2 separate regions of the Homo sapiens genome follow, and region 2 is linked to region 1. The links come from fine-mapping of genetic effects on gene expression. A gene starts in region 1. The other region holds a variant in brackets. All regions are shown on one strand. Distances are from middle to middle.

The links. PIP is the estimated chance that this variant, and not a neighbour inherited with it, causes the effect. A credible set is the group of variants that fine-mapping cannot tell apart.
Region 2: its variant is the best candidate, but not a certain one, in a credible set for the expression of ZNF18 in tibial artery (GTEx, PIP 0.61).

What each region holds. Positions count from the first base shown.
Region 1 is chr17:11,995,145-12,000,527 of GRCh38, forward strand. ZNF18 (zinc finger protein 18) reads right to left here and starts at 2,331. Exons shown (of 7, transcript NM_001303281.2): 1 at 2,287-2,331. RefSeq lists a silencer at 2,030-2,479 and enhancers at 2,412-3,395, 2,510-2,749, 2,820-2,899.
Region 2 is chr17:12,532,786-12,538,168 of GRCh38, forward strand. No RefSeq gene overlaps it. Among named protein-coding and RNA genes, the nearest start is that of LINC00670, 14 kb to the right of the region's middle. The variant C/T (reference allele first, on the strand shown) is at 2,164.

The sequences.
Region 1 (5,383 bases):
ACGCCTGTAATCCTAGCATTCTGGGCGTCCAAGGCAGGGGGATCATTTGAGGTCAGGAGTTCAAGACCAGCCTGTCCAACATGGCAAAACCCCATCTCTACTAAAAATACAAAAATTAACCGGGCGTGGTGGTGAATGCCTGTAATCCCAGCTACCAGGGAGGCTGAGTGAGGCAGGAGAATTGCTTGAACCCAAGGGGGCAGAGGTTGCAGTGAGCCGAGATCACACCACTGCAAGAAAAAAAAAAAGAAACCCAGGCCAGGCGCGGTGGGTCACGCCTGCAATCCCAGCACTTTGGAAGCCCTAGGCGGGAGGACCACCTGTGGTCAAGAGTTTGAGACCAGCCTGGCCAACGCAGTAAAACCCCATCTCTACTAAAAATACAAAAATTAGCTGGGCATGGTGGTGCGCACCTGTAATCCCAGCAACTCAGGAGGCTGAGGTAGGAGAACAGCCTGAACCTGGGAGGCGGAAGTTGCAGTGAGTCAAGATCGTACCACTGCACTCCAGCCTGGGCGACAGAGGGAGACTCCATCTCAAAAAAAAAAAAAAAAAGAGTCAGTGAAGTCAAAAAATCTGAACACTATCAACCGACTTGCTCTAATTGACATTTTCAGAACACTAGACCCAAGAACTGCAGAGTATACATTCATTACAAGTGCAAAGAGTATTCATCAAAACAGACCATATGCATAATTTTCAAATGACTGATATCTTAAAATTAGCTCTAAAAATATTACGCAAAGTGGTATTGCTAAAAAGCCATTAAAGCAATACCAAAAAACACTCAAAAACCCAATATCTGATAGAAAAGGAACACAAGAGAAACAAAACCAGAAAGGTCAAATGGAAAACTTTAGAGCTTCCTGGGTTCAAATATATTCTCTGATCATAGTGCAATTAAAGTAGAAATCAATAACAATAACTAGAAAATCCCAATTTATGGAAATTACTAAATAATGCTCTTAACCCATAGTCAAAGAAAAAAATCACAAAGGAAATTAAAATATGTTTTCATACTGAGTGACAATGACAGCATTATCAAACCACCTGAAAAGCAGCTTTAGCTCAGAGGTAAACCTACAGTTTCAAATAACATCTTAAAAAACGAATAAATATATTTTTAAAAATACCTTGCTTTGTAAATCCAACCTATTTGGCTCAAGAGTTTCAAATAACAAGCGGCAAGATTTTAGATAGCAAGATACCGACCTGTAAACTTACTGCAATTTATCTGTTTCCTAAATTAAGATAGCAGTTTAGATAATATTTAAGAGAAATGACATTTTGGAAAAACTACAGATTTTATAAAATACTTAAATCTTTTGTTAGTAATATTATACTCCCAGGTAGTGTGTAAGAAAAATGTCTCGATTATTCAAAATTAAATTACTTTATATAGTATTAAAAATTTAATAGAGTTTATATTCCGATAACCTCATGAGGAACTGCCCCCATTAGTTATGAAAAAAAAATAAGGTTGTCTGTTATACCTGTTATTAAACCTTTAACAAATAGAATGAATTTTTAAAAGTGCATTCTAGGTGTAATATACACAAGTGGTTACATACATGGTTACATATATAAGTAACCATTTGTTAAGCACCTACTACGTATCGGCTCATTATTAAGCTCGGTTCATGTATTTCCAATTCCCACAATTACCCTGGTGTACAGATCAGGAACCTCCGAGGCTCACAAGTGGCAGCCAGATTAACCCAGGAAGCTCTAAAGCCTTTGCTTTGGGGAGAACTGCCAACGTCTGGTGATTTGTTGGGGCGTTTTCTGGTTGTCACAAGCAGCTAGGGGAACTGGCATTTAGTGCTCGAGGCCAGGGCAGCGCTGCTCATTGGATATGTATTCTCCACCATGCGCCCCCCAAATGCCGACTGCACTCTGATGAGAGAGGGAGAGACTCCAGGCATCATCCCATCGGGTTTCCTCTTCCAGAGACTCATTTTCAGCCCTTAGGGGAAGACAGCGGGGAGGAGCCCGTTTTCGGTCCCAGTGCAGAGACCCGGCCGGTCCCGCGGGGCGCAGAGGCGCAGGAATGCAGAGCCGGGACGGGGTTCACACATCCCCCCGCACCCACGGTCCACTCCCAGCCATGGCTGCCCCGGCCCCGCACTCGCCACGTCCCCCGCGCGCTCCCAGACGCATGGGCAAGGGAGCCCGCTGGCCCCTCCGTAGCTCCGGGGTGCCCAGCTGAGTCAGGTGCGGACGCAGATAGCGCAAGGCCTGACCCCGAGCGGCCGGAGGCCGGGACCGCCCCGCAAGCGCGCTCACCTCGGCCCGCGGCGCCGGCTCCGGGCGCACTTCCGGGAGCTGGGTGGCTGCGCGCGCCTCAGGCGGCAGGCGAACGACGTGCGGCACCGGGCGGAGCTAGGGGGCGGGGGCGGAGCTGATACCGAAGCTCCTATTGGCCGTCGGGGACGCCCCGCCTCTCTCTGGCGTTGCAGCCCAGGAGCCTCCACCGACATGGCAGCGAGGTTCCCGAGCCAACGCCATCCTCCGTTCCTTCCGTCACTCACTCACTAATCACTGTTCCTGAGTTCCTTCACTTCTCACCCGTCATTTATTGCGCACCTATTCTGTGCCAGGCACTCGGCCAAGCACTGCGAGGCCTTCAAAGATCATTTCTTTGTCTCTCCCAAACCCTTCCGCCCAGTCCCACCCGCAGAGCTGCAACGCTCTGCCATTATCCCTGATTCTTAACCGCCGCCTTTCTCCTTTCCGTTCTTGCCTCACTGGGCCTCCCTGAGACACTTGATTTGCCCCAACCTTCTTCCTCTGTCTTGGTTCTCCCACTCTCATCAGCTCTGCATCCCCTGGGTCCTCTCCCACTTCTCCCCATTCCGTTGGGGCTAGTCCAATGTGGTGCCATCCTCTTTCCACCTGCGTCTCTCTCTCTTCTCTCTCTCTCTCTCAACAAATGTCATCCCTGACTCTTCCCTTCTCCTTCCCTTTCCCACACGCCAACAATGGCTGAATCCTCTGATTTGACCTCATTGTCTCTCAGACACCTCACCCTCTCTCCCTTCTCACTATCCCTCCCTCGGCTCAGTTCCACACCATTTGTAATGGTCAAGACCTTCTTACCCTTTCCCCAGCGTCCAGTGTTGCCGGTTTCCAGGCCATCCTGTGCTGGGCCACGACATCAACTTGTGATACTAAGTTGCATTAATGGAAGTATCATGTCAAAGTTTGGGTGTTCCACCTTGGGCAACTGGCAAAGAGGAGGGTATTCAAAAAAAGCTGCCATGTTCCCCAATAACCTATGGAAATAAAATAAATAAAAAATAAAAATTTAAAGAAGAGCTGTCATTATCATAACATGTCCTGTACCTGTCATTATCATAACATGTCCTGTACCTGTCATTATCATAACATGTCCTGTACCTGTCATTATCATAACATGTCCTGTACCTGTCATTATCATAACATGTCCTGTACCTGTCATTATCATAACATGTCCTGTACCTGTCCCATGTTTACAAGAATTAAAGATCCTCCTCTGGAGAAATAAAGCTTGATGCGGGGATGGGATTACATCTTCATGTACCTGAAAAGTGACCAGCGGAAAAGGGATTCGACATGTTCTCTTAAGTCCCAGGGTCTGAACAAGATCCTATGTGTGAAACTACTGTTTCAGCCTGACATAGGTGGAAGTTTCTAGTCTTTTTTTTTTTTTTTTTTTTTTTTTGTATTTTTGGTGGAGACGGGGTTTCACCATGTTGGCCAGGCTGGTCTCGAACTCGTGACCTCAAGTGATCCACCCACCTTGGCCTCCCAAAGTGCTGGGATTACAGGCATGAGCCATGGCACCTAGCTGGACGTTTCTAACATTCATGTGATTGATGGCGCTGCTTTGAGTTCCTGAGGACAGCATGGCTAACAATTTACCAGGCACATTTAGAGGGACACCTTCATTGGGTATTGCTTCCAACATCAATGTGCTCTGCTTCTAAGAAAGTCAAGAGATAAGGTGGTTTAGAGGGGAAGATTATAGGAGTTTTATCTTCAATGTGTTCGCTTTTAGCTGATCAACACCCAAGGAAGATAACAGTAATTCAAAACCATTAATTGGGTTCTGACTCCTTTGTGAATCTGATGGAAGGTAAAATTTTTCCCAAGAAAAATGCACATACACATCTACATACAACACTTTGCACTCAAATCCAGGGAGCTAACACAGCCTTGAAACCCATCCTTGGAACCCACAAACCTCAGTTTGAGAACTCTAATCCTGGTAGATGGTTCCTGATATGAAAATGACACTTTGAAGTTTAATAATTTCTTTATAAACTGGCACCTTAGGAAAAGGCATAAACACTTATTTCGAAACAGGCTGAACAATCAAAATATTTTTTAAAATAGGGAGATATCTACCTCAGCTTAGGAAATAATGAAAAGGTGTCATCTATTTCTATTATTCACTTACTCATTCAATAAATATTTACCAGATGATGTGCCCAGCACTCTTCCAATAGCTATATATGCAAGAATGAACTAAACACACAAAGTCCCAGCCCTCCCAAGACTTATATTTTGTAGGGTGAGCTGGACAATAAATAAGTGCACAAGTGGTAATTATAGGTGTTGTGAAGAAAATTACATTGGGGTAAGGAGGAGAGGTACTGTTAGAGATGGAGTGCAAGTTATATAGGATGGTCAGGGAAGGACTAACAGATAAAACAGGCTTGAATCCAGACCGGAAGTTAATTAAGACGCAAGCCTTGCGTGTATCTGTGGGAACCTCCAGGCAGAGGAAATTGCAAAAGTTTTTGTTGTTGTTGTTGTTTGAGACAGAATCTTGCTCTGTTGCCCAATGTAGTGCCAGAATCTCAGCTCACTGCAACCTCCGACTCCAGGTTTAAGTGATTCTCCTGCCTCAGCCTCCTGAGTAGCTGGGATTACACATGCTTGCCACCGTGCCCAGCTACTTTTTGTATTTTTAGCAGAGATGAAGTTTCATCATGTTGGCCAGGCTGGTCTCAAATTCCTGACCTCAGGTGATCCACCCACCTCAGTCTCCCAAAGTGCTGGAATTACAGGTGCGAGCCACCAGGCCCACCCATAAACGTTTAGGCCATGAAACAATGAGTGACAATAAAGAGAAGCACTATAAAGACCAAGCCCTGGACCACGCCAACATATAGGGTCAGGGTAATAAGAAAAATCTATTAAAGGAGAAAGAAACTGAGGAGCCACTGAGGTAGCAGGAAAACAGAGAGTGGTATCCGGGAAGCCAACTGCATAAAGTGTTCAAAGAAAGAAGGAATTGCTGGGTGTGGTGGTTCACGCCTGTAATCCTAGCACTTTGGGAGGCCGACATGGGCAGATCACCTGAGGTCTGCACTTCGAGACCAGCCTAACCAACATG
Region 2 (5,383 bases), 540 kb after region 1:
TTTATCCTGACTGAATTTACTTCTGCTTCTGCTGGTAGCCAGATTTAATTAACCTTGCTCATCTTTAGTTCTTCAGAGGGTCTTTATTCGTGAGTGAAAATACCTCGCTGTGAGAACTTAGCACACCAATAGCATTGCTGCTGTGGGCAACCTAATTCAAGCAATTACATTCTCCAAGATATTCACTGCTCTAGTCTGGGCTACCTACTAAATGGGAAACAATTTACTTATTTTCATGGCTTCCTCACCTCTTTTGACACAACTAGTACCTCAGAAATTGTTTCTATTCATCACATTGTTTTTATGAATTGTGTTGGGGGAATTTCTGAAAGCATTCATCAAATTAACCATATGTCTGAAGTTGAAATTTGTATTCCTTCTACAGTTATTGCTTTTCTTATATTTGACCTTTTTTTCTTCTTCTAGAATTTTCCTTATTTGCATATTAGGTATATTGTATCTATCCTCTAAGCTTCTTCTTCTTCTTCTTCTTCTTTTTTTTTTTTTTTTTTTGATGGAGTCTCACTCTGTCATCCAGGCTGGAGTGCAGTGGCGAGATCTCGGCTCACTGCAACCTCTGCCTCCCAGGTTCAAGCAATTCTCTGCCTCAGCTTCCCTAATAGCTGGGATTACAGGCGCCCACCACCATGCCTGGCTAATTTTTGTACTTTTAGTAGAGACGGGATTTCACCATATTGGTCAGGCTGGTCTCGAACTCCTGCCCTCAGGTAATCTGCCTGCCTCAGCCTCCCAAAGTGCTGGGATTACAGGCATGAGCCACCGTACCTGGCCTCCTCTAAGCTTCTTCTATTCTCATTTATGGTTTTAATTTGTTTATGTTCCTTGTAAAATATTTTTTTCATTTGATCTTGCAGACCATCAAAGCGTTTTCTCAGCAGTAGCTAGTCTGTCAATAGTTTGATTGCATTTACAATTTATACATATTGTTTTCAGATCCAGATGCTACGCTTTGTGCTCTCTTCATCTTTTTGAGAATTCTTACTATAATGCTATCTTACTGCAGAACCTTAGACCATCATGCCCTTAGTAATGGATGTGATGATTAGTTTTCTTTTGCAAAACTAAAAAATTTTAAACATATTGGATATTTTTCAGAAATATCAGAAATATTTTAAAATCACGGATATGGTGATTACTTTTCTTTTTGACTGAAAATGACCATCACTGAGTTGTCACAGAGGCTTTCCTTTCATTTTTTAAATTTTTTTTGAGACGGAGTCTCACTCTTGTTGCCCAGGCTAGAGTGCAATGGCGCGATCTCGGCTCACTGCAACCTCCGCCTCCTGGGTTCAAGCTATTCTCCTGCCTCAGGCTCCTGAGTAGCTGGGATTACAGGCTCCCACCACCACGCCGGGCTGATTTTTGTGCTTTTAATAGAGATGGGGTTTCATGTTGGCCAGGCAGGTCTTGAACTCCTGACCTCAGGAGATCCACCTGCCTAGGCCTCCCAAAGTGCTGGGATTACAGGCTGAGCCACTGCGCCCGGCCAGAGGCTTTCCTTTCTATAGTCCTTGCAAAAGAAAGCTGCAGCAAGTTGAACAAGCTTTGAACAGTGTACTTCAACCCCAGGATTTAGCTAAAAGAACCAGCATGTATATGGACCCATGAGAAAAGAATACAAAGGCTCATATCACCTTGTGATCTGAATTAGTGCCCTGTTTTTTTGTTTTGTTTTTAAAGTGAGTTAGACAATGGACTCTCTGTCTCAGGAAGTTGAACAAAATTTATAGAAGGATTGCAGCTGCCAAAAGAGGCTGAAGTCAGGAGGATATGGGCTAGAGCTAAGACCATAGGGAGAGTGATAAACCAAAGCCAGGAGTGAGATAGATGAACTTAAGAGAGAGCAATAATGTTGAGTACACAGAGAAGCCACCGCTCATCCATTCCAGGTAAGCCCCAGTAATCACTCCCTTTTAGCCATTCCTGTGGCATCCTTATTCCTTGGTTTTGAACACACCTCAATAAAACATTTTCTCCTGCTACTGAGCAGCTGGAACAAAATCATTGCCATAAAACTCAACAGGGTGCCGATCTCTGATACCCAAGGTTTCTAATGAATAGGGTACTGGACAGTGGCAATCTTTGTATATAAAATCTGGGGAAAAAAGAAAATTTTTCTGATTGTTTACGATAACTATATAA[C/T]CTTTCCTCCAACTTATCCCAAGTCTTTGATTCTCTGGAAAAAAGTATAGGTGCTGCTTATGATGAACAGGCTTTAGTGTACCCATATCATCCCTGTCTCTTGGAGTCCATGCCCTTATGTAATTCTCTCTCCTTGAGGGTAGGCAAGACCTGTGACTTGCTTCTAACCAATGTGGCAAAGATAATGCATGATTAGGTGGTATTACATGCAACGATAGGTGGTATATCTCATGATTAGGCAGTATTATATGCAAAGGTGGTGGGATGTGATGGCCATTATTACATTACTTTATATAATACTCCATCCTAGTAGATTGAAACTAAAGTCCCTCCTTAGAGGCTTAATGAAGTAAGTGGCCAAGTTGGAGAAGCCTAATTGGCAAGAAACTGCGGGTGCGCTCCAGGATCTGCTGTCAGCGCCTAAGATCTCAGAGCAACCTTCAGTCAACAGCTAGCAAAAAGCCATGGCCCTCAGTCATGCAGCCACAGGAGATTAATTCTGCCAACATCCTGAATAAGCTTGGAAGCAGATTCTTCCCCAGCTGAGCCATTAAATGAAAATATAACCTGACCAACACTTTGGTTACAGCCTACTGACTCTGAAGAAATCACTCAGCTAGGCTATACTCAGTTTCCTAACTGTGAAATAAATGTGTACTGTTTGAAGCCACTATGTTTATGGTCATTTGATACGCAGCAATAGAAAACTTAGGCACTATCAAAGCAAGGGATGTAAGAAAGCACAAAACCAACCAGACGTGGTGGCTCACGCCTGTAATCACAGCACTTTGGGAGGCCGAGGCGGGAGGATCATGAGGTCAAGAGATGGAGACCATCTTGGTCAACATGGTGAAACCCCATCTCTACTGAAAACACACACATAAAATTAGCTGGGCGTGGTGGCGTGCTCCTGTAGTTCCAGCTACTCGGGAGGCTGAGGCAGTAGAATTGCTTGAAACTGGGAGGCGGAGGTTGCAGTGAGCCGAGATTGCGCCACTGCACTCCAGCCTGGTGACAGAGTGAGACTCCATCTCAAAAAAAAAAAAAAAAAAAAAAAAGAAAAGAAAAGAAAAAAAAGAAAGTACAAAACCAGAAGGCTAACTCTGCCCCTGCCTTACCCTTTTCAGTGTGGCCTGACACAGGCAGAACCATGCCACGTGCTGTTTCTCCACCTGGGTTACTACATTGCTTTATGATCTATCCTTCCTTAGGCATTTGCAAGACTCCAGTGTACCAAGAGAAAATTTTATCAGGCTATGATTAAGTGTGTTTATTCACCAAGGTAAACTGGCTGTGGAAATTGTTGAATTACACTTGAGCAGAACTTTAACTAGTTTTAATATGTGTTTACCCACATTACCTCACTTGATACTCATTATAATCCTGCACGATGTGTAAGTATTCTGTTGAAGCTGAGAGATTAAGTTGTTTGCTCAAGTTTCCCAGCGAGTAGTGGCAGAGCCAGAAGTGAATCTAAGTCTTCTAAAACCAAGGCCAGTTTTCTCCTTTATGTGAAAATCACCTCTTAGAGAGAAGGCCTTACCTGAACCTCCAGAATAATGTTTAATTATGACAATATGGTCTCAGTTCTTTCAAAAGTAGAATAAAATTAGAAAATGGAGATCAGCACTTCCTGTAAAATTGTGGAGGTCATCTGGTATAGAGTAGTTAATGAAAGAATGTAAATGTATCATATGTGATGGAATTTCTCTGTCGTCATCAAAGAACATTAACAGTGGACACATGTACTCTCATGCATGTGCCCTTGTGTCAAGTGTTGAATCTATACTGACTAATGTACTCAAAGGAAAACTTCAAGTACAGACATTATTTGTACTCAGAGGTTAGAAGTCAAAAAATCAAAAGTCTACTGTAGGCTTTGGATAGAATAATGAAGTCTTGCTTATCTTTGGAGGAGGATAATTATCCCCTTTGACATTCTGAAAAAAAAAGTTTGTGTAACTTAAAAGTCTTGGAAGTTTGGTATAAGAATGAGCATGTCCAAACTGTTCTGTTACTTGAAAAGTGATTGTCAGGCCGGGTGCGATGGCTCATGCCTGTAATCCCAGCACTTTGAGAGGCCGAGGCAGGCGGATCACGAGGTTAGGGATTTGAGACCAGCCTGGCCAACATGGTGACACCCCGTCTCTACTAAAGACACAAAAAATTAGCCAGGCATGGTGGCAAGCACCTGTAATCTCAGCTACTTGGGACCCTGAGGCAGGAGAATCGCTTGAACCTGGAAGGCGGAGGTTTCAGTGAGCCAAGATCACGCCATTGCACTCCAGCCTGGGCAACACTGGGCAACAGGGCGAGACTCCGTCTCAAAAAAAAAAGAAAAGTGATTGTCAGGTAAAAACAAAGGCAAAAAAGATGAGTAAGGAACTTACTCTTACTTCCAACTAGTCAAAGAAGTCTTCCAGAATCAATAAGACTTCTTACTTTACAGTAAATTCTAGTTTATGTGGTAATATTGACGTGATTCCTGATCCAAATCAGTTTTCCAAATGAGGTTTTAATAATTGTATTTGATGACTACAAATGTACTCTATGCTCGGTGGGAAATGCAATGGTCTCGACCCATTTTCTAGGTGCAAGTATGTGGTGATAACTCATAGACAAAGATGGTAGCCAGAGATATGATGAGTCAGATTCTGCCAACATCCTGAATAAGCTTGGAAGCATATTTCTTCCCTAGCTCAGGGAAGGATAGCCTGACCAACACCTTGGTTACAGCCTAGTGACTCTGAACAAAGCTTTCGACTTTGAAAACAGAGAGAGCATTTGATCATGTATGGAATTTGAGAGAAATAGGAAGAGTCAGGGTTAACTAGGTAATTTTTTAGCTTAAGCAACTGGAAGAATGGAGTGTATAGGAATTCAGTCTGGGAAATATCAAATTTAAGATATTTTATCAGACATTCATGTGAAGAAGTTGAATAGATAGTTGGGCAAACAAATGTGGAGTTCAAGAAAGAGATCTGGCTGCAGCTCTAATTTAGTTAACCAAATAATTTCTCCAAGGGATTGAATGAGGCAGAGAAGAAAAGAGACCAAACATTAAGCCCCAGGAAACACTGGAATTAAAAGGTGAGGCAGAAGAAGTAGAACAGCGGAGATGACTGAGATGACTGACTCAATATATTATCAGTGAGGTGAAAGGCAAGCTAAGAAAGTGTTTGGTGCCTTGGAAACCAGGTGAAAATGTATCAAAGAAGGA